Homo sapiens: one gene and its partners. The protein of the gene in region 1 interacts with the protein of each later gene in a pairwise test. Each region holds a gene or a part of one and is shown on either strand. Other genes may lie near its edges. The genes, in order: IRAK4, ZNF597 and IL36RN.

Evidence for each region.
Region 2: the proteins of IRAK4 (region 1) and ZNF597 interact in binary tests that used the Homo sapiens proteins (3 or more experiments, as listed by UniProt).
Region 3: the proteins of IRAK4 (region 1) and IL36RN interact in binary tests that used the Homo sapiens proteins (3 or more experiments, as listed by UniProt).

The regions. Positions count from the first base shown.
Region 1 is NC_000012.12:43,754,024-43,761,962, forward strand, and holds the start of IRAK4 (interleukin-1 receptor-associated kinase 4), read left to right. Parts: upstream 1-4,927; 5' UTR 4,928-4,993; exon of another isoform or gene 4,994-5,963; intron 5,964-6,901; exon of another isoform or gene 6,902-6,949; intron 6,950-7,939. Other genes in the region: pseudouridylate synthase PUS7L, read right to left, coding at 313-1,238, 4,670-4,680.
Region 2 is NC_000016.10:3,440,420-3,447,339, forward strand, and holds the start of ZNF597 (zinc finger protein 597), read right to left. Parts: upstream 3,086-6,920; 5' UTR 2,941-3,085; intron 2,788-2,940; 5' UTR 2,735-2,787; coding exon 2,702-2,734; intron 515-2,701; coding exon 388-514; intron 1-387. Other genes in the region: NAA60 (N-alpha-acetyltransferase 60), read left to right, coding at 3,348-3,408. UniProt on the Homo sapiens protein: May be involved in transcriptional regulation.
Region 3 is NC_000002.12:113,054,856-113,062,217, forward strand, and holds the start of IL36RN (interleukin-36 receptor antagonist protein), read left to right. Parts: upstream 1-4,342; 5' UTR 4,343-4,386; intron 4,387-4,556; 5' UTR 4,557-4,583; coding exon 4,584-4,612; intron 4,613-5,996; coding exon 5,997-6,082; intron 6,083-7,268; coding exon 7,269-7,362. UniProt on the Homo sapiens protein: Inhibits the activity of interleukin-36 (IL36A,IL36B and IL36G) by binding to receptor IL1RL2 and preventing its association with the coreceptor IL1RAP for signaling.

The DNA of each region.
Region 1 (7,939 bases):
TAAAACTTATTAAACACGAACCAACTGCTTCAACTTTATACATTTGTGAATAGGCTAATATAAATGCCTAGGTTATCAGTAAGGCTAATTTTTAAATTCAGTGTAATTTAAAAGGTTTTATCATCTTCTAGTAAGTAACAGAATAAATAAGAATTCCTAGAGTTGCTTAAATTGCTTATCAGCAATTCCTCTCCCTAAAGGTAAATCATATATTCTTTCCAATCTCTCTAGCCAAGTCTGTTCAATTCATTTTCACAATTTTAAATTTAGCTAAGCTTATCCAAGAAAATGGATGATGATTTATTAAATTACCTGTATATATAACTTTTCCTTCTTGGCATTCAGAAAGAGGCCTTTTCCCACGTTTGTGTGCTTTTTCCCGAAATCTTACTGTTACCACCACATTCGGATTACCAGCACTGCAATTCATTTTAGAAAAAGATTTGGTTTCCACAAGGTTTCCAAACTTTTTGTTGACAAAATGGTGGACAGCTTTTCTGTGGTCTTTGTTTGTATCAGGTTTAAAGGTAAATTTGGAATTTTCTTTCTTTGCATCCAAATATTTAAAAAAGTCAAATGCTTCCTCTTCAGATACCAAATGACAAAGTTCTTTATATTCAAGATTTGGTTTTACAACAATTTCACTGTTTTTTCCTACAGTTACTAAAAATGGAAATTTCTGCCTAATGGCACTGTGTAAACTAGCCCTCTGGTTTTTGTCAAGGATTCTGCCTATTGAGAATTCAGGAGGTAGTCCAATTAGCTCTGTTTTAGAAAGCCACTTCTCTCTTACATCACAGGCAAAATTATTCAGTAACTCATGAGTTTTTTCATCCAAAAAGGAGCTTAAAACATCAGCTTTTTCTTCACATTTGGAAGTTCCATCAACGATAGTATCTTCCTTTTCTGAACCAGACTGATGATTTTGGTCACCATCAGTGTACTTAATCAAAGTATGAACTTCTTGGTTTCTTCCATCTTCTAAGGACAGATTTTGAAGATCTAGTTTTGGTTTTTTGGGAAAATTATTTGGCTCAAGTTGTATTTCACTAATCTTGAAAATAGGCTCATCGATGGTCTTATTAACTAACTGTCCCTGTTCATCAATTTCAATAACAATAAAGTCACTTGGTGAGCTTTTTATAGTGCCATGAAATCCAACGTGATCATTAAAGAAACACAAAGAACTAAACCTGATTCTATAATCTGTATCTTCTTCCATTCTTCTATAACAGTGCCTAGAAAACAAAACAAAGAGGTGGTTAGTTAACAGAAAGAGAAGTTATGGATGACCAAATAGGAATAGGTTTGCAGGATTTAGTTAATTCTGTCTCTCTTTTAATTCTGAGTCTTCTTAAATGGTATCATTAACTTAATTTATAACTATATGTACTTCCTGTGTACTTTGACTCTCCTATACCAAGCTGAATTAATAGGCAAACTATTTCTGGTATAGCTAAAGATTTGTTAACTTGTATCTTCACTCACTCCAGATTTGTACCTATTATCCAGGATTAAAATGAGTCAATTTTATCTTAAAAATATCATTTGTAGGCTCACAAGAAGAGGTGAGAACACAGGACTATAAAACAAAGATTTGTCCAAATTCCATTCCTGGAGCCTAAAATTTCCAGCTAATTCCAGAGAACATGTGGCTAAGTTTTCTTATATTATTAGTGGTTAGTGACAGGAGAGGTGACAAAAAGACAATAGGAAAACTGATGGGTAAATGAAGTTCTAAATACAAATTTGTGATTTGATTATATTTCAAGGTAGGATTAAGTCAGTCCTGGGCCTTCTCTAATGCCCCCATTAGGACAAATAGAAGCTTTCAAGGTTGAGCCAGAGGAAAGTTCTAACTATATCATTGGCATCAGACAGAAGAAACCCTTACAGAGCTTCCTGGAAACACTATGCAAGAGAATAGTACTCTGATCTCTCACTTTTCACACAAACCCATGGCTACCATACCATATGGAGCTGCAGGAAAGATAAATTGCCCAGGGGCCCCATACTAGTGAGTTCTGTGTTTCCCCCACATTCTCCAAGTAACTTATCATCATCTGGACCATCATCTCATACCTATAATGTATTCTACTAATCTGAACCAATTTAGCAAATCACACCTTCTCAATCCTTTCCATCATGCCATATAGAAATCACTACAAATTCTCCATATCCTAATTTCCTAAGGAATATATAAGATATACTTACTTTCCTTAATTACTTAATTTCCTGTACAGTTCCCTCACTTTCTTGCCCTAATTGAAATCTGGCTATTTCTTCAGGCTGCTTCTTCTTCAGTCCTCTCAAGTAAAGGCTATTTTTTCTTTCCCACCCATCTACCTTAGGACCTGGAGGCTGTAAATATTGGTCTATGTTTGTCACTGTTCGTTGCAAGCCATTTCTTCCTCTACTACCTCCAAAAACCCCAATTCTTTTGAAGAGCCTGCCATTGGGCTTTACCATCTGCTGTCATCCTCTCTCGGATCCCCAGACAACTCTGCTTCATTCACTGATCTCTGGCTCACTACCTTCTTATCCAACATGATTTTTATGATCATCTATATGGATCATCCATTCAATGTCTTGGACCCTCAAGTCCTCAATCTCAACCTCAACCTCACACCTCTACTTCATCTTGGTCATCCACTGTCACGGTCATAACTTTGACTTTCTCATCTCCAAAAACTGCATTAACCTTAAGCATCTGATTCTTATGACTCCCAATGTCCTTTATCACACCAACTTTAATACTTCCATTCCAAAAACTTTTAGATATTGTGAAGGTCCCTAACTCCTGCTTCTATAACTAGCCCACAAACCAGCCAGAATGGTCTTAAAAGGTAAATTAAATCATATCACAATCCAGTTTAAAACCCTCTAGTCACATTTGCAATAAAATCCAAATTACTCACCCTGGCTTCCAAGGACATCTAAGATTAGGGACCCTGCTTATTCTCCAAACTCATTTGTACCTTTACCCCATTACCCACTATACTCCAGCTACTCTGGCCTTCTTCAATAGTTTTGTGCTAACTGTTCCTGTTGTTTAAATTGTTCCCTCCCCAATCATATAGCTGCATCTTTTAGGATTCATTTCCTCAGAGAAGTTTTTCCTGACCAATAATCTACAGGAACCTGCAAGTGATTCTCTTTTTTTTTGAGACGAAGTCTCACTCTGTCGTCCAGGCTGGAGTGCAGTGGCATGATCTCGGCTCACTGCAACCTCCGCCTCCCGAGTTCGAGCGATTCTCCTACTTCAGCCTCCCGAGTAGCTGGGACCACAGGGGCGCGCCACCACGCCCGGCTAATTCTTGTATTTTTTTAGTAGAGATGGGGTTTCACCATATTGGCCAGGGTGGTCTTGAACTCCTGACCTCGTGATCCACCCGCCTCGGCCTCCCAAAGTGCTGGGGTTACAGGCGTGAGCCACCGTGCCCAGCAAGTGATTCTCTTTCACAAAACCCTATTTAATTTTCTGCATAGCAGTTCTAGGTAAAGTTTTTCTTTATTATTTATTGTATATCTCCTCCAAAGAGAATGTTAGTTCCACGTGAGGAGTAACCTTGTCTGCCTTATTTACTACTGATGATCACACATTTTGAACAGTGTCAAGCACATGGTAGGTCTGCAATAAATACTATTGTTAAATAAATGAAATAACTAGTACAAAATAAGAGCTGTAGGAATGAAGTGGAAGATAATTAGAAGAGGCATAATGCAAGAAGTGGCCATCTAAGTCCTCCATAGTTCAAGAGATAGAAATGAGGCAGAGACCTCACAAGTAATGTACAAACAAAACATGCAATGTGTGCAAGAAAAACAAGCAGTCCAGATACAGAGCAGTGGGGATGGGAATGCAGGGAGACTACAGTGCTGGAAAATGTAGCTGAGTTAGTACCAGATTATGGAAGATGTTGAATGCCCTGACAAGGACTTAGAATCTATTGGGTGGTCAATGGATGGCTACTGTTAGTGTTTGAGTAGAAAAGTGACACAATTCCAAAACATGCTTTTGGAATTGTAAGATGATTCTGATGGAAATGAGCAAGATGTATCCGATGGAGTAACAGTTAGAGGAGTTCAAAAACAAAACAGCATGGTCAAGAACATAGCTGTAGGGATTGGCCCTGAAAGAATAATGATCTTTTCTTTCTCCCAGAAAAAAGGAGGAAGACAGACATTCTAAGCAAGTGAAACAGGTAGGGAAACTTGGGGAGAATGTAATTCCAGCATCCTGGTAGAAGAGTGGAACTGACCTGGAGGACAGCAAAGGAGCCCACGTGGCGTTAAGCCTGAAGGTGCAGTATTCCCATTCAACAGAGACTGCTGCTGACAGTGGGCGGGGGAGTAGTTTGCTTGGCCCGTGGTTGAGGAATTCGTTGGCGGAGGAGGGATCCTGAGAAGGTACTAGAAATACTGAACCCAGTCCTGCAGAAGCTACTTAACTTCACAGAAAACTAGGGCGTCGTTGCCCTCCAGCACGTCCAAAGGTGTCCCCGACAAGGCCAGCAGCTCTACCTGTTTCTTCTCCCTCCTCTTACTCTGCCTGTCCAAAGGCACGACACTAGTCCACGTCACCTTTCTTTGGGCGCAAAGGGTATGGATCCTCAATGCCAACCTCGTCACCCCCCCCCCCCACACACACACACACACACACACATACAAGCCCACCATCGCGCAAGAAACTCGACCCCGTCTACCTCGGTTCAGTGGAAGGCATTCATTTGCACAACGCTGTGCGCATGCCCGGAAGCCTTAAGTGTTTCAGCCTCCGACAGGGGCGTAATTAAAGGGGCAGGCGCCCACGTAAAGACGCGCCCTACGCAATACGTGGAGTTTCTCACTTTGTGGAGCCGCCTGGAGGCGCCAAGATGAAGCCCATCGGGGAAGTGGGGCGGGGCCAACCCGGCAGGCCCCGCCCCTTCGCGGCGCTTCCTAGTTCGGCTGGTTCTTCTGTCGCCGGCTTCAGCAGCCCGCGCCCGGGCAGGTAAGGCATTCCCCGCCTTAATGCCTCGGTCAAACGTCGTCCGAGGTCCGCTTCCAGGCCTCGGCACCTCTGCCCCAGGGTTGCTGGGGTCGGCTGCGGAACGGAAATCTCTTTATCATCCGTGAGAAAAGTTAGAGAGGAAGTGGGTTCCTTTGACAGAGCTTACTCCAGAAGAAAGACTTGGGTAGGTCCCCGGTAATCAAGAAGTTCGTCGGCCCTGAGGAAGAGCCTGAGGCTTGGAGGGACGTCACCCAGCTGTTCTGGGGCGCAGTCGGACCTCAAGTTTCTCACCTCTCAGGCCCTGGATTCCGTGAACCCGACTGCGAAATGAAGTCTCTTTTCCCCAGAACCAGGAAGTCAGGCCAGCACCTGACAGATGCCTGTGGCGCCAGCAGCTCGCTGAGCCTCCACACGATTGTAATTCGCTTGTTTCTCCGGCCTCCAAGCTTCCAGGGAATTAGAAAGTGGAGGCGGCTTATGGGATCAGATGAGTACATTCGCAGATGGGGGAAAAAAGTGTACCTGTCAGCTTGGAAGCCAGAGGGAGACAAAGGGATAAAAGCAAACCCTGTCCAGGTGCGGTGGCTCATGCTTGTAATCCCAGCACTTTGGGAGGCCCAGGCGGGCGGATCGCTTGAGGTCAGGAGTTCGAGACCAGCCTGGCCAACATGGTGAAACCCCTGTCTCTACTAAGATACAAAATTTAGCTGGCATAGTGGCGGGCGCCCGTAATGCCAGCTACTCCGGGGGCTGAGGCAGGAGAATCGCTTGAACCCAGGAGGCAGAGGTTGCAGTGAGCCGAGATCGTGCCACTACACTCCAGCCTGGGCAACAGAGGGAGACTCCGTCTCAAAAGAAAAAAAAAAAAAAAAAAGCAAACCCTGAGAAAGCGAGAAAGCACTTTGAGCATTTAGAATGGGAACAAACGGCGCTATTAGTGCTTCAAAAACGTAACTGCCCAAGGCCCCTGGTAAGCAGAGGATACTAAAATCTGCCTTTTCCCTTTCTTGGAGTGGTCCTTGAAGAGGGCTATCGGGAAGTTCAAATTTCTTCTGTTTTCCTGCAGAGCGTTCATTTGAAGTTTGCTTTCTACCTCTCCAAACTGAGCTTCTGATATTCCAGGCCAAACTTGCTCCTTCCTCAGCCTTCTCTATCTCAGTAAATATCGGTAAACTTGGTTATGCTGTCTTCTCACTCTCCACATCAGCCCATAGCTTTCTATTGGCTCCACCTCAGAATCCTAGGACTTCTGCACTTGCTCTGCTACGACCCTGGTCCCAGCCTGCAGCACGTCCCACCTGGCTTATTGGTAGGCTCTCCTAAATGCTTCTTTCTTGCTTCTCTGTCCTTACTCCAACATCCTTTATTCCCAGCAGCCCCAGTATCCTTCTAAGACATGAGTACAGAGCATGTCTCTTTTCTCAAAACTTCCAGCATCTACATCTCACCCAGAGGATAAACAAAGTCAATACAAAAACTCTAAGGCCCTTGAAGACCTGGCCCCTTTACCTTTCTGACCTCATCTGCTACTTGCCTGTTCCCTCCTCTGCAGTCTCACCATGTCCTTGCTGTTGCCCAGTGGGCCCAGTTCCAACCTTTGCATTTACATTTCGTTTTGTCCACAAACTTTTCCCACAGATAGTCCAGTGGCTGGCTTTCTCCTTCTTTTTGACCTTTAATCAAATGGCACCTTCTTATTGAGGCTTCCTGTGACTACCATATTTATAATTACAACCTTTTCTCTATTTCGTTTTGTTCTTTCATTTCACTTGGCACCATCTAACATACTATAGAGTTTATTTATTTGCTTATTGCCTTCCTTCCTCCATTAGAATATAAACTCCATGAATTCAGGTTTTGGTTTTGTTTTGTTTTTTTTCTCTAATTTTCCTAATGCTTCATCTCCAGGGGCCTGGAGCAGTATCTAGCACAAAGTAGACACTCAGTAAATATTTGGTGAGTCAATGGTATTATATTTTGTTTTTTAAATATATGCAAAGCATTTTCAATTACTTACTGTTGTGTTGGATCAATGTTCAAGAAAGATATGTTAAGTTTAATTTATGGTACACCAGCACATATCCCAGTTTGTAATAGGCAGCCCTATCTAATTTAATAGCTCTGGAAGCCCTCACCAGCTTTTGTTCATAATGATGATGTTAAAGTATCTAAAAATAAAGATTAATGGTTATACAGCATATTTTGCTAAGAATATATGGAAGTAAATAGTGTATTTTAGAAAGGATATAAATACATTAAAATTACCATGGTTGATCAAATAAGACAGCCACCATCTCAAAAGCTTAGCTATTTTCTCAGACTTGTTATTTGTACGCTTTCAGTAGATCCTCACTACTGTTCTGGAAATTGAACCTAAATACAGTCTGCACATATCTTTAAAAATAATGTGATATAAGAATAATTTCTGCCAGGAAATAATAATTGCTCCTTTTTTTTTTTGACCACCTATTATTATGTGACAAGATTTGGCCCTTTGCATGTGTTGATTTTAATTCTTACAGCAATTCTTAGGTATTACTATCTCTGTTTTTCAGATAAAGAAAAGCAAGGTGCAGAGAAATGTATTTACTAGCTCTGGTCACAGTTGGCTTTGGTTAGAACTTAGGCCTGTGCAACCTCAAAGTTCATCTTCCCTCCACCCCTGCACAATCTTTTCCTCTGATCAAAGTGCTAATGAAGCAGTCTTAAAACTTTATTAACACATTTGACAAGAATCTTTTGCCCTCCTGTTTTGGGCACAGTACTTTGGGAAGGCATTGGATTCCATAAGCAGGTGCTTATTTTAATATATTTCTCAATCACCACCCCACCTTTTACACTTGTCTGAATTGTCTTACTTGAAAATATGAATGGGTTTTCTTTACTATGAGAGTTAGTGGTATGAGGAAACAGTCATGAAGGTATTTACTTATTTGTAAGCAACAT
Region 2 (6,920 bases), on another chromosome or scaffold:
GTCAGGAGATTGAGACCATCCTGGCTAACACGGTGAAACCCTGTCTCTACTAAAAATACAAAAAATTAGCTGGGCATGGTGGCAGGCGGCTGTAGTCCCAGCTACTCGGGAGGCTGAGGCAGGAGAATGGCGTGAACCTGGGAGGCGCGGTTTGCAGTGAGCAGAGATCGTGCCACTGCACTCCAGCCTGGGCAACAGAGCGAGAGTCTGTCTCAAAAAAAAAAAATCATCTCATATTTTAAAACTTTTTCTCTCACACAATTATCACCTCCACATAAATTACTGAGGGACAGGTCCCACTCCACCATACCAACATCTGGATAAAGCATGAAGTTCTCCTCCTAGAATTGACAAAAGTTCCAGATGCAGGAAAAACAATTGCCTTACCCATCAAAGCCGCATCCTCCAAAGACTCTTTTGTACCATCTTTGCTGAGGGACCTCTGGGCAGGGTGCAGAGTCACGCACTCCTCTTGAGAAAAATACACAGCCAGATCCTCAAAGAGTATTGGTCCCTGAAACACAAGAGCCTGTGTCAGCACAAGAGGGTGGAGGGTCAGCCCCTCACTTAACCTAGGAAGGATGAAAAGAGCTAGAAACATCAGATGCACGGGATAAAAGGCTCGGTGTAAAAGGTTCTTGAGCGCAGAAGTAGGGCAAATGGGTTCTAAGGGGTGGGGTGAGGGTTGGGAAGAAGAGAGTAAACATGGACATACATTTTTAGGCAGTGGTACAAGGACGGTGGACTGTGAGAATTATTGTCTATCTTGAAAGAGAAAAGATGAGGGAATGGCTCTTAGGGAGGCAACCATTAAGTGAGGATGCTCTAAGAAAAGGAGAGGTTTGGGGCCGGGTGTGGTGGCTCATGCCTGTAATCCCAACACTTTGGGAGTCTGAGGGGGATGCAGATGACTTGAGGTCAGGTGTTCGAGACCAGCCTGGCCAATATGGTGAAACCCTGTCTCTACTAAAATTACAAAAATTAAGGCTGGGCACAGTGGCTCACGCCTGTAACCCCAGCACTTTGGAAGGTGGAGGCGAGTGGATCACCTGAGGTCAGGAGTTCAAGACCAGCCTGACCAACATGGTGAAATTCTGTCTGCACTAAATACAAAAAATTAGCCAGGTGTGGTGGCGCATGCCTATAATCCCAGCTACTTGGGAGGCTGAGGCAGGAGAATCATTTGAACCTAGGAGAAAGAGGTTGCAGTAAGCCGAGATTGCACCATTGCACTCCAGCCTGGGCAACAAGAGTAAAACTCCGTCTCAAGCAGAGCTTGCAGTGAGCTGAGATCGTGCCACTGCACTCCAGCCTGGGCAACAGAGCGACACTCCATCTCAAAAACAAAAACAAAAACAAAACAACAACAAAAAAAACTCTGTCTCAAAAAATAAATTAAAATAAAATGAAATTAGCCAGATGTGGTGGCATGCGCCTGTAGTCCCAGCTACTTGGGAGGCTGGGCCAGGAGAATCGTTTGAATCCAGGAGGCAGAGATTGCAGTGAGCCGAGATCGCGCCATTGCACTCCAGCCTAGGCGTCGCAGCGAGACTGTCTCAAAAAAAAAAAAAAAAAGAAAAGAAAAGGAGAAAGTTGGGCAGCCCAGGAAGAATCATAAAGAGATAAAGGTTACAGGATTCTCCCAACATCCTTCCCTTTGCTATTTCCTCTCGTCCCCATGACACTCATTGCTAAGCTCACTCCAGCACTTCATCCAGGCCTACCCCACCTTCTCTAACGGTGTGATAAATTAATCACTTGGGATTTATTATTACTCAACGAGTGTGGAGTCTAGAAATGTGCTTAATTTAAAAATTCATTCAAATTGGAGAAGTACCAAATCTGTAATTTTGGGAACCATTCCAGAAAGTCACTTTTAATCCTAGCACTTTGGGGAGCCGAGGTGGGAGGATAGCTGAAGGCCAGGAGTTCCTTGGCAAAGCAGCAAGACTCCATCTCCATAAAGAAGTTTTAGGCCGGGCGCAGTGGCTCACACCTGTAATTCCAGCACTTTGGGAGACCGAGGCGGGCGGATCACAAGGTCAGGAGATTGAGACCATCCTGGCTAACACGGTGAAACCCCGTCTCTACTAAAAATACAAAAAATTAGCAGGGCGTGGCGGCAGGCGCCTGTAGTCCCATCTACTCGGGAGGCTGAGGCAGGAGAATGGCATGAACCCGGGAGGCGGAGCTTGCAGTGAGCCGAGATCGCGCCACTGCACTCCAGCCTGGGCGACAGAGCGAGACTCTGTATCAAAAAAAAAAAAAAAAGAACTTTTAAAAGTAGCCAGACACTGTGGTATGCGCGCCTCTCAGATACTCGAGAGGCTGAGGCGTAAGGATTCCCTGAGTTCCAGACGGAGCTATGATATCAGCACTGCACTCCAGCCAGACAAGCAACACTCCAGCGACAAGGCCAGACCCTATCTCCAAACAAAACAAAACAAACAGATAAGACATTGAGAAACTCTCTCAGAGATTCCTCCACAGGTCCCTGCTCCCAGTTGGTAGTTCTGAAAGAAGGAAGTTGGTAAACCATTATGTGTGTGGTCTTGGAACGAAGAACACTTGGTCAAAGGGCTATTTGGGGCTCAGGAGCACTCCTACCACAACAGGCATGCCCAACTCTCCTCCAAAGGAGGGGGTCAGGCAGAGACCGAAAGCAGCAATAAACTTGGACGAAAAAGGTACCTCGACTCACCTGGGCCTCGGGCGTCGGGGGCATGGACGCCATTTGGCGGGTGGGGAATGCCTTCTTCAAGACGCCACAGGGACTTCGTGACAAAGCTGCGGGGGGAGAGAACAGTTCTTAAAGGGACCAATTCCGCTGCCAAGTTCCTCCACTACCCCTAGCCTCCCTCGATTCCCTCCGAACCCCCCCTTAAAAACCTACGCCGACTGCTCCTCCTCTTGGCCCGGCCTCGAAAGGGGCCCACTTACCGCTCCGCGGTTAATAACAGGCCTCGCGCTCCCTGACAGGAGCTGCAGAAAGCGACGCCCGACCGAGACGCGACGAAGAACGCCACGGCCACTGCAAAACTCCCACGCTCTCATGCTCCTTTACGCAGGAGCTGCGGGAAAAGCCGCCGGAAGCGACCCGCCCTCAGCCCTCTCCGCCATCCTGCCCTTTGATTGGTCGAAGTTCTCCCGAAGGGGAAGTCCTTCTTTTGTGTTGACCAATTGAACACCTTAACCGAGGACCTGTAGCCACTGGGCAGCTGCGAGAGGTAGTTTTCCTCCTTTTCTCTAAGCAACCATTTCCGCTTCCGCTGGCGGGGTCTCCTCCGTGAGCTCCGGGCCTGTTTGCCTGCTGAAGTAGAGTCTTAGGGTGACCCCAGGGGGACGTAATGTTTCCGAGAAGAAGGACAGAAAGAAGACTGGGAGACACCGGAACTCGAAAGAAAATCGGTAACAAAATGTGGGTTCGGCCAACAGTGCCCTGTAGGCCTGAAATTTCGGTCTGGCCAGAGCAAGGTGATTGAGAGGGCGGGGGTTCGGGCCTAGCCTGGGCTTGAGCTGTCCTTTGTGTCTTGAGCGGATGGTGGGGCCGTGGAACATGAAGGAGTATCTTTGTGTACGTTCACAACGTTCACATCGGTGTAGGCCAGGTTGCTGGACTCTGACTCAAAGTGTTATAGAGGCATTACGTATTGTACCCGCAGCTGCAGCCTAAGCGAGCTGCTTCAGCTTCCTAGTCACAGGATCCCACGCGAGAATAGAGCCATAGGTTAGCGTCGCAGGACGTTGTTCGCCCCCGGATACCTCACATGCAGCCTACCCTAGAGCCAGTCATTTCCTATTGTGTGCTGGGGGAGGAGGGAGTGCCCTGGTGTAGGCATTTGGAATTGGAAAATTGAGCTCCTCCCCAAGCTCTGCCACTGATTGGTTGGTAATCTTGGCCAGTTTACAACTTTGCTTTCCTCAGCTGCAAACAGCTCAGAGTGCCTCTCTGGGCTAACTCAGAGGGTAATTTCAAAGATTATAAGATAATGTAAGTGAAAGAAATTGCCAGTTTATAAAGGTGTTTGGGGAAAAAAAAAGACGAAAATGATAGGTACCTTGATAGAAAAGCCTGAAAAGTCTCAACATATTTCCTTATTCCAGTGCCAGGCACATTCCTGTATCTAAAAGCTTAATGAATGGCTGCATGGTTATTAAAACAATATTAGGAGATTTGACAACTTAGGTAATGTGATTTTGTGGAATATCTGATAGGATAGTTTCAGCTACAAGTAACAGAAAACCCACCGAAAGGATGTTCAAAGAGCAGTTACAGGTTGGTTAATTCGGTGGCCCAGTGACAACATCAAGGTCCCAGTGCTTCTCTGCCACCCTAAGCATGTTGGTAACGTTGACAATAGAATCCAGGTAAAATATACAGACATGTATTGTGTCATGTACCCATCCTAAACTAGTTATTACCAAGAATAAATAATTGTTTGGGGCCCATCATGCTTCAGCCCCTGTCACTAGGGGAAGGACCTAGCCTCCCTTGATAATCTACCTGCACAAAATTAGGGCTTTGTTACAAATGAAAAAAAGAGATGTGGAAAATAAGTTAGATAAGAAACTAGCAGTATCTGCCACAAATGATATCTCTTGACAGCTAACTAAGAGCTAGACCTTGTGGGGATGGATCACAAAAGAGGTAGCTGTGAAGTCCCAGTAAAGGTGCTTCCAGGACAGGTGGAAGAATGGTAAGAACAAACTTGCCTACAGGCTAGACCAGTCCAAAGCATATATGTTGAAGAAGAGCTAATAGCCTGTATATGAAGGTGTAAGTAAAGGAGATGTTCATGGTTGAGTCACTGTGGTGTTCACGTAGTCATCTTTCCCTTCTTGGTTTGTGCTTATCTCTTTTTTTTTTTTTTTTTTGAGACAGTCTCACTCTGTAGCCAGACTGGGGTGCAGTGGCACAATCCTGACTCACTGCAACCTCTGCCTCCGGGGTTCAAATGATTCTCCTGCCTAAGCCTCCTGAGTAGCTGGGACTACAGGTGCCCGCCACCACGTCCGGCTAATTTTTTTTTTTTGTATTTTTAGTAGAGATGGGGTTTCATCATGTTGGCCAGGATGGTCTCGATCTCGTGACCTCATGATCCACCTCGGCTTCCCAAAGTGCTGGGATTACAAGCGTGAGCCACCGCGCCCCGCCTATTTAATGCTATTCTTACATCAGCACTGTCTCATTGTGGTCTGAGATTCTCCTTATCTGGATTTGTGGCTCTTTCACCAAGAACAAGAGACTCCCGTGGCTCTCTTCTTTAAATCCTGTTGCCATAATTACAAAGAAATAAACACAGTTTCCAATGCTTTGAAATGAAGCATGTGGTATTAACTCAGTGGATTACCAGAGAGAGAGGGATATACCTGAAATGGGAGAGGAAAAAATCTTCCCTAGACTATCTTTCCTAAGAGCCATCAAAACTATAAACAAGTGGACAAAGAAGGAGGAAGCTTGAAAGCTTTATCTTCCTGAAAATAAAGAGATGACATACAAAGTCCAAGATAGACCAAGATTGAAAAATTAGACCACATTATATCCCTAACTCAATTTTGTAAAAAATCACAAATGCTTGACTGTATACCCACTATATGTTCAAGTAACATGTTTTAATCATCAAAATTTAAAAATCCTTCCACGACAATCTTTTGCAAGTTTTTCCATTTCTGTCTTTAACATGGTACCAGTAATAACAACTACAACCTGTTTGTATTGAAATTATTTCTATAGCCCAGCATCTGCTTTCTCTGAAAATTATCTTTTTAAAAATAGTAAAACTAACATCATTACAAAAGTAGTATATGTGCATTTCAGAAAGTTAGGAAAGGCTGGGTGCGGTGGCTCACGCCTGTAATCCCAGCATTTTGTGAGGCTGAGGTGGGCAGATCACAAGGTCAGGAGATCGAGACCATCCTGGCTAACACGATGAAACCCCATCTATACTAAAAATACAAAAAATTAGCCAGGCGTGGTAGCGGGCACCTGTAGTCCCAGCTACTCGGGAGGCTGAGGCAGGAGAATGGCGTGAACCTGGGAGGCGGAGCTTGCAGTGAGCCGAGATCACACCACTGCACTCCAGCCTGGGTGACAGAGTGAGACTCTGTCTGAAAAAAAAAAAAAAAAGAAAATACAGGGGAAAAAATGGCAACACATTCCTGTCACCCAGAGATCACCACTATTTACTCTTTATTATTTGTTTTTTTTTTTTTGAGACAGTCTCACTGTTGCCCAGGCTGGAGAGCAGTGGTGCGATCTCTGCTCACTGCAACTTCCGCCTCCTGGGTTCAAGTGATTCTTGTGCCTCAGCTACCAGAGTAGATGAGATGATGGGCAGATGCCACCACAACCATTTAATTTTTGTATTTTTAGTAGAGATGCAGTTTTGCCATGTTGGCCAGGCTGGTCTCAAACTCCTGGCCTCAAGTGATCCGCCCATGTCAGCCTCCCAAAGTGCTGGGATTACAGGTATGAGCCACCGCACCTGGCCTGCTCACTGCAACCTCCATCTCCCAGGTTCAAGCAATTCTTCTGGCTCAGCCTCCCGAGTAGCTGGGACTATAGGTGCGTACCACCACACCTGGCGAATTTTTGTATTTTTAGTAGAGGACGGGTTTTCCCCATATTGGCCAGGCTGGTCTCGAACTCCTGACCTTGTGATCTGCCCGCCTTGGCCTCCCAAAGTGCTGGGATTACAGGCGTGAGCCCCTGCCCCCGGCCCCTATTCTTAAGTATATATCTTTTCCCTAGTGATTTTTATGATGATGCAGCTGTATATTGAAACGGAAAGATACTCATTTTTGGGAGTAAAATTGGTTATGAAACAAAAACAATAACAAAGTTGCTTTTGAAGACTATGCGTTAAAATGGTAGTGGTAGTTATATTTTTAATTTTTATGGGTACATAGTAGGTGTATAT
Region 3 (7,362 bases), on another chromosome or scaffold:
TGGAAGCTCCACTCCTGTGACTTTGCAGGGTACAACCCTCCTCCTGGCTGCTTTCATGGGCTGACACTGTCTGTGGCTTTTCCAGGCACACAGCATAAGCTGTTGGTGGATCTACCATTCTGGGATCTGGAGGACAGTGGCCCTCTTCTCACAGTTCCACTAGACAATGCCCCAGTGGGGACATTGTGTGGGGGCTCCCACCCCACATTTCCCTTCTGCACTGCCCTAGCAGAGGTTCTCCATGAGGGCTATGCCCATGCAGCACACCTCTGCTTGGACATTTAGACATTTCCAAACATCCTATGAAATCTAGGCGGAGGCTCCCAAACCTCAGTTCTTCACTTTTGTGCACCCACAGGCTCAACACCACATGGAAGCTGCCAAGGGTTGGGATTTACACCCTCTAAAGCCATGACCCAAGCTGTACCTTTGCCCTCTTTAGCCAAAGCTGGAGTGGCTGGGATGCAAGTCATCCCAAGTCCTGAGACTACACAAAGCTGCCAGGCCCTGGGTCTGGCCCATGAAACCATTTTTTCCTCCTGGACCTCCAGGTCTGTGATGGGAGGGGCTTCTGTGAAGACCTCTGATATGCCCTGGAGACACTTTCCCCATTTTCTTGGTGAAAAACATTTGGCTCCTCTTTCCTTATGCAAATTTCTGCAGCCAGCTCGAATTTCTCTTCAGAAAATAGGTTTTTCTTATCTCATCTTCATGCTGCATGTTTTCCAAACTTTTATGCTCTGCTTCCCTTTTAAATGTAGGTTCCAATTCCAAACCATATATTTGTGAATACATAAAACTGAATGTTATCAGCACCCAAATCACCTCTTGAATACTTTGCTGCTTAGAAATTTCTTTTGCCAGATGCCCTAAATCATCTCTTTCAAGTTCAAAGTTCCACAGATTTCTAGGTCAGGGGCAAAATGCTGCCAGTCTCTTTGCTAAAGCATAACAAGAGTCACCTTTGCTTCAGTTCCCAACAAGTTCCTCATCTCCATCTGAGACCACCTCAGCCTGGACCTTATTGTCCATATCACTATCAGCATTTTGGTCAAAGCTATTCAGTGAGTCTCCAGGAAGTTGCAAACTTTCCCACATCCTCCTATCTTCTTCTGAGCCCTCCAAACTGTTCCAACCTCTGCCTTTTACCCAGTTCCAAATTGCTGGGTAACAGGCAAAGTGTTAAAGTGCTGAAATGCCAATAGTGATGTCAAGGTGTGTTAGTTACCAATTGTTGTGTAACAAAGTATCAGCAAAGTTAGCAGCTTAAAACAAGAAAAAATTATTATTTAACAAAGGCTGAGAGTCAGGAATGAGAAAACTGGCTTGGCTGGAGGGTTTGGCTCAGGGTGTCTCATTAGGTTACAGGAAAGATGTCAGCCAGGGTTGCAGTCATCTGAAGGCTTGACTGGGGCTAGAGGATCTGCTTCTAAGATTGTGCATTCACAGACTGTTGGCAGGAAAAAATAGTTTCTCACCACGTGGGCCTCTCCATAGGGCTGCTTGAGTGTCCTTATCACATAGTGGCTGGCTTTGTCCAGGTGAGTGATCTAAGAGCTAGGAGGAAATTGCAATGCCTTTTATGATGCTGCCATGTTCATCATGTAACATAGCGCCCCACTCCCAGTATCAATTTACTATATCAGTCTGTTCTCATGCTGCTAATAACAACATAACCAAGACTGTGTAATTTATAAAGGAAAGAGGTTGAATTGACTTAGAGTTCCACATGGCTGGGGAGGCCTCACAATCATGGTGGAAGATGATGAAAGAAGAGCAAAGTCATGTCTTACATAGTGGCAGGCAGGAGAGCTTGTGTGGGGAAATTCCCCTGTATAAAACCATCAGATCTTGTGAGACTTATTCACTATCATGAGACCAGCACAAGAAAGACCTGCCCCCATGATTCAATTACCTCCCACTGGGTTCCTTCCATGACACGTGGGAATTATAGAAGCTACAATTCAAGATGAAATTTGGGTGGGAACAGAGCCAAACCATATCACCTTCTTAAAGATGAAGTTTCCAAGAATTTATGGACATATTTTAAAACAGCCACACATGGTTTGCGAATTGGCAGCATTGTCTTTAGGTAGTGCCAAAGTTTATTTTTCAGAAGTTCAAAACTTGACTCTCATACACACATATAGTGAGCATGTGTCAAAGATTTACTATTTTTCATAAGTGAGGGAATCAGCAAGATTATAAAGCTGATTATCAAAAGATAATTCAGGGAATGGAGGCTTATACCGTCAGTCAAGAAATAAAGGCTGAAATAGGTTGGCTAAGTTACGTTTTAAAGACAGCTTTATGACTTGTGAGGCAATAAAACTGCACCCTTTGGAGTTATCTTTTCTATCAGACAGGAATAATGTGTAATTTATCAATGTTCTCTTAGTTCATGGCTAATTTCACAGAGTCTGAGACCTAATTAGTAAGTCAAGCAAAGGGATAGGTCCAGAGAGAACTTATTGTTGGTGAGGCCTGTTTGATAATGTTTTCATATAATATTGACAGTATACACAGTCATAGTTTCATTTTACTTATTATTTATTTATTTATTGAGGCAGAGTCTAGCTCTCTCTGTCATCCAGGCTGGAGTACAGTGGCTCAATCTTGGCTCACTGCAACCTCCACCTCCCAGGTTCAAGCAATTCTCACACCTCAGCCTCCTGAGTAGCTTGGATTACAAATGTGCACCACCAACCCGGCTAATTTTTGTGTTTTCAGTAGAGATGGGGTTTTGCCACGTTGGCCAGGCTTGTCTCATTTCATCTTATTTCTACTGTCATTCCATTTGGTCAATTTGTAATTTAATAATTTTGTACAAGGCAGTTTCTACATTAATTTTATTTTTCTGAAAAGTGTCTATCATATTAGTGGCATTATGAAAATCGTAGATTATTTTCTGTGTTTTGAACAACTTGATATTTTATTTATTCTTGAACACTTGTAGGACCTCTTGGCTCATATGTCTGAATACCATTTCTTTAAAATGTACGCTTTAACATGTACACATATGTAACAAACCTGCACATTGTACACATGTATCCTAAAACTTAAAGTATAATAATAATAATAAAAGAAAAAAGAAAAATAAAACTTAAAAAAAAAGTGTATGCTTTAACAATAAATTATTAATAAATAGTTATCTGTGTTATTCAAGATATAATTAAATTGTTTTTTGTGCACTGACCCTTACCTTTATTTCAGATCCATCACAGAGAGTGCATGGAGGTATTTAAACTGCATTAACTGTTTCACAATTAAGTATTATCTTATCAATTAGGTATTCAAGAAAGATCACTTACAGAATTATAGATGGCATGAGCTAGATTTTACTTTCTAAAGAAATAACCAGATACATGAGCAAAGATGTTAATACAAAGATGTTTGTCACAACATGGTTTTCAATAGCAAAAAAAGAGAGAAAAATATATAAAAGACAAATAACAGTGGATAGGTTTCAATAAATAATGTTACAGTGATACAGTTAAATACTATACAGCTATTGAAGCATGTCATTATTCATATTTAGTATGGAAAGATATTTTGCTATTTTGCCACATGAAAAAATGAGGTTGGAAAAAGTATAGGTTTTGTGAATCTGTTGTATGAAAGCTGTCTATAGTTACATGTGTATGTGTGTGGAGGAAATAGTGTTGTCATTGGTTTTCTGATGATGCACTCAGAAAAGACAAGTATTCACATTTTTTCTTGTGGCTGATCTGGATTTTCAGGTTTTTCTACAATGAACATGTAGGCTGAACATTCCCTAAGCAGGAGAGTCCCACCTCTAACATCTCCTGTAGGCCTGGCAATGGCAGGCAGGAAAGACAGAGGAAGGAAGGAGGGAGAAGGGAAGGAGTGAAGGAAGGAGTGAAAAAGGTAAGGAAGAAAGGGAATAGGGGAGGAAGGGAGGAAATGGGAAGGGAAAGAAGGAAAGGAAGGAAAGAGGGAGGGAAGAAAGGAAGGGAAAAGGGAGGGAGTGAGTGAATGAAAGATGGAAAGAAGGAAGAAAGGGAGGGAGGCAGGGAGGAAAGAAAGTCGCGCTTCCCTTGAGCTGCCATGGGCACTGACTCTTAGGGTCTGAAAGCCCCTGAGATGCAAAAGCCTAGTGCTCACAAAGAGCTGGAAAGCCTCAAGGAAGTTCTTCAATATTTCTGGAAGGAAACTGTCTCCAGAAGCTTCCCTCCCCACGACAGATAATGAGCAGCAAGTGCTTCTGGCGACTTAGGGTGATGTGAAATCACGCTGGGAATCCTGCTCCTCCTCAGGTCCTGGCAGTTTCAGGGCCCCTCCCTAGGCCTTACTTAAAAGGCTGAGGCATCCTTGGAGGAACAGGCAGACTCCACAGCTCCCGCCAGGAGAAAGGAACATTCTGAGGTATGCTCTGGGGCGCTGGTGGTACCGGAGCTCTCTCCTGACCCCAGACCCAGAATCTGCTCCGTGGAGGCTGTTCACATGCTGGGGAGCTCGGTGCAGCTGCTTGCTCCCCAGACCCCAGCCAACTCAGCCTCTCTCTCCATGATTTTCTGTTGTTTATTCCAAAATAGGGGAGTCTACACCCTGTGGAGCTCAAGATGGTCCTGAGTGGGGCGCTGTGCTTCCGGTGAGTGTATGAGGCCCTGGTTTGGTGGTGTCCTCCGGAGGAAGTGAGTTCTGGATAGACCCGTTGTCCAGCTCTGAGCAGGAGGGAGGAAGGGAGGGGCTGCCATTGCAGCTGGGAAATTGTGACCAGCACCTCACTGCTCTTAGAGTTTTCCCAGCCTTTTTCAAATAGGGGCAGGACTGGGGCAGGCCATCTCACAAGGGGTCCCTGATGCTGAGGGGGATAAGTGAACCTCCCAGTCTAGAGCTCCAGCCAAGTCTATCCAAGGTGGGAACGGGGGCCAGGATCCCTGCTCAGAGCTCCGCCATTGTCCCCCATCACAGTGAATGGATGTAAGCTCACCCACTCTGTGCCCCTGCCTCCCTGCTACTCTTTGGGGATAATAATAAAACAAAAACCATTACCATCAGTCAGTCTGTCCACCCACTGGCATGTACCAAGCCAGACACTCTGCCGTGTTCTGGGCTTTACAACAGAGGATGAGAGTGGTCCTTTCTCTCAGTCTAATAAAGCACTTCCCATGATGTGTTCTATGGGACTCGATTAGAGGAGTCCCACAGAGGCATCCAGGAGATGCTTTACACAGTGGAGCTCTCTGATCAAGTAAATGCAGGGAATTCTGCTTTCTACATCCTCTCATAAGAGAACCACAGCCCAGCTCAGCATATGAGTGACTCTGAGGTTTTCTGAAGTAAGGCAACTTGTTGAATTGTATTTAGCCATGCATCGACCCAATTTTTACACTGCATCCTTTTCCCCCATATAACTTTTGGAGAAACCCACTTTAGGATACATCTTCCACCTCATAGGATGCCAGGAAATCAACTGAGTTCAAAGATGAGAAACAACTTTGAAAAGTTAAATAAAAGAAATTTAAATTTAAAGAAACTCCTCACTTAGTAAGGAATATATGACCAAATAGAAATACATGTATCTTGAAGAATTGAAGAATCAGGCTTTAACGTGGAAGAGGCCTGGATGTTATCCAACCCATCATCTTAGTGTAGCAATGGGGAGGCTCAGGCCCAGAGTGGGCGAGAGAGTTGTCTCCTGCGACTCAGCAGCATTGGAGGCAGAGATGGGGCAAGAACCTAGGGCTCTGACTCACCGTGCAGCTTCTCTTCCAGCAGGAGATGGGTTGGGGCAGAAAAGGTTGAATAGGGTGAAGGAGCAAACCACAGACTCCAGTGGGAGACTGTGGGGTCATCCTCCTTGTAGGGCATGAGCCCAGCAGGGCTGGGAGACAAGGCTGTGCTGTTACTTCTGGCACAGTAGGAAGAAAGAGAGACAAAATGCCTGAGATCAGGGGGTTCTCTGGATCCAGGGCATGCTGGAGTGTCCACCCTCCTCCTAATGTAGTCCTCACCCCTTCCTGATGTTTCAGAATGAAGGACTCGGCATTGAAGGTGCTTTATCTGCATAATAACCAGCTTCTAGCTGGAGGGCTGCATGCAGGGAAGGTCATTAAAGGTTGGTGATGAAACATGACCCACTTTCCTTGGTCTCTATACACTCTCAGGGGAGGGGGCCTGAAGAGGGCTTAGAATAGTCATACAGATTAGCATAGGCCTACAGAGCCCAGGCATTGGGGCAGCACAAACCAGGCTCTAAGCAAAGGCAAATAAAATACTACACCTCTCAGCAAAGTGAAGACACAGGCTCTGGGGCCACCTGAAGCTTCTATGCAGAAGTGGGAATGTTTTCCAAGAGGCTTGTCTTGTCATTCCCTTACAGGTAGATTTAGGTCAAGCATTGCATTCCCTGGGAGCCAGTAAGTACCAAGGAGAGAACTAACGTAGATTCTCTATACCTTTTTTCCCATATGGGAGTGGGTTTCTGCCTCTCCACCCTGGGTCCCCTCTGCTCTCTGAAGATCCTCAGTCACTTAGAGTGGAGGGACCCAGAGAACAGGTGGCATTGTTGGACCTCCTGCTTGCTCACTCTGCCCCATGCACTGCAACACGTCCCTCTCTAAAATAGTTTGCACCTGCCCACCTGGGGCACCCTTGCTGAGCACAGATGCCAGGTAGATCCTTCAGCTAGGCCATATGTGTATGTGTGTGCTTACTGGTGTATGTATGTGTGCATGCAGGCATATATGTGTGAGCATGTGTGCATGCATGTATCTGTGTGTAACCATGTATGTGTGAGTGCAGGTATGTAGGTATGAGCATGTGTGTGTATATGTATATGTGTGCATGCATGTATCTGTGTATGTATGTATCTGATGTATGTGGGTGGTGAGGGGATGTACAGAGAGGAATGAGACCCTCTTTTGCTCTCAGCAACATCACAGGGTGTAGAAAGTTGTCCAAACAATTCCAAAGGGGGGCTTATCAAGACAGGGTTCAGAAAAAGGCCTGAGACCCAAGGGACATTAAAGGAGGGGGTTGAATCTATTTTGGGGTGTAGAGGCTTGAAGATTTGACCCTGAACTAGAGGGTGGAGTGGAGGTGGTACAATGTGCTTCCATGCCTTGATGTCCACTCTGAGCCAGTGGACAGGAGAAGCCATGTCATGACAGCTGCTGAGAAGCCTCCCTTCTGCCCAGCCTGGGGGCAGGCCGTCTTACAGCAGTCCTGTGCCCTAGAGCCCAGGACAGGGGAAGAAGGAGGGAAAGGCATCCAGGGCCCTGCATCTGGCCTCTTTCCCACAGGTGAAGAGATCAGCGTGGTCCCCAATCGGTGGCTGGATGCCAGCCTGTCCCCCGTCATCCTGGGTGTCCAGGGTGGAAGCCAGTGCCTGTCATG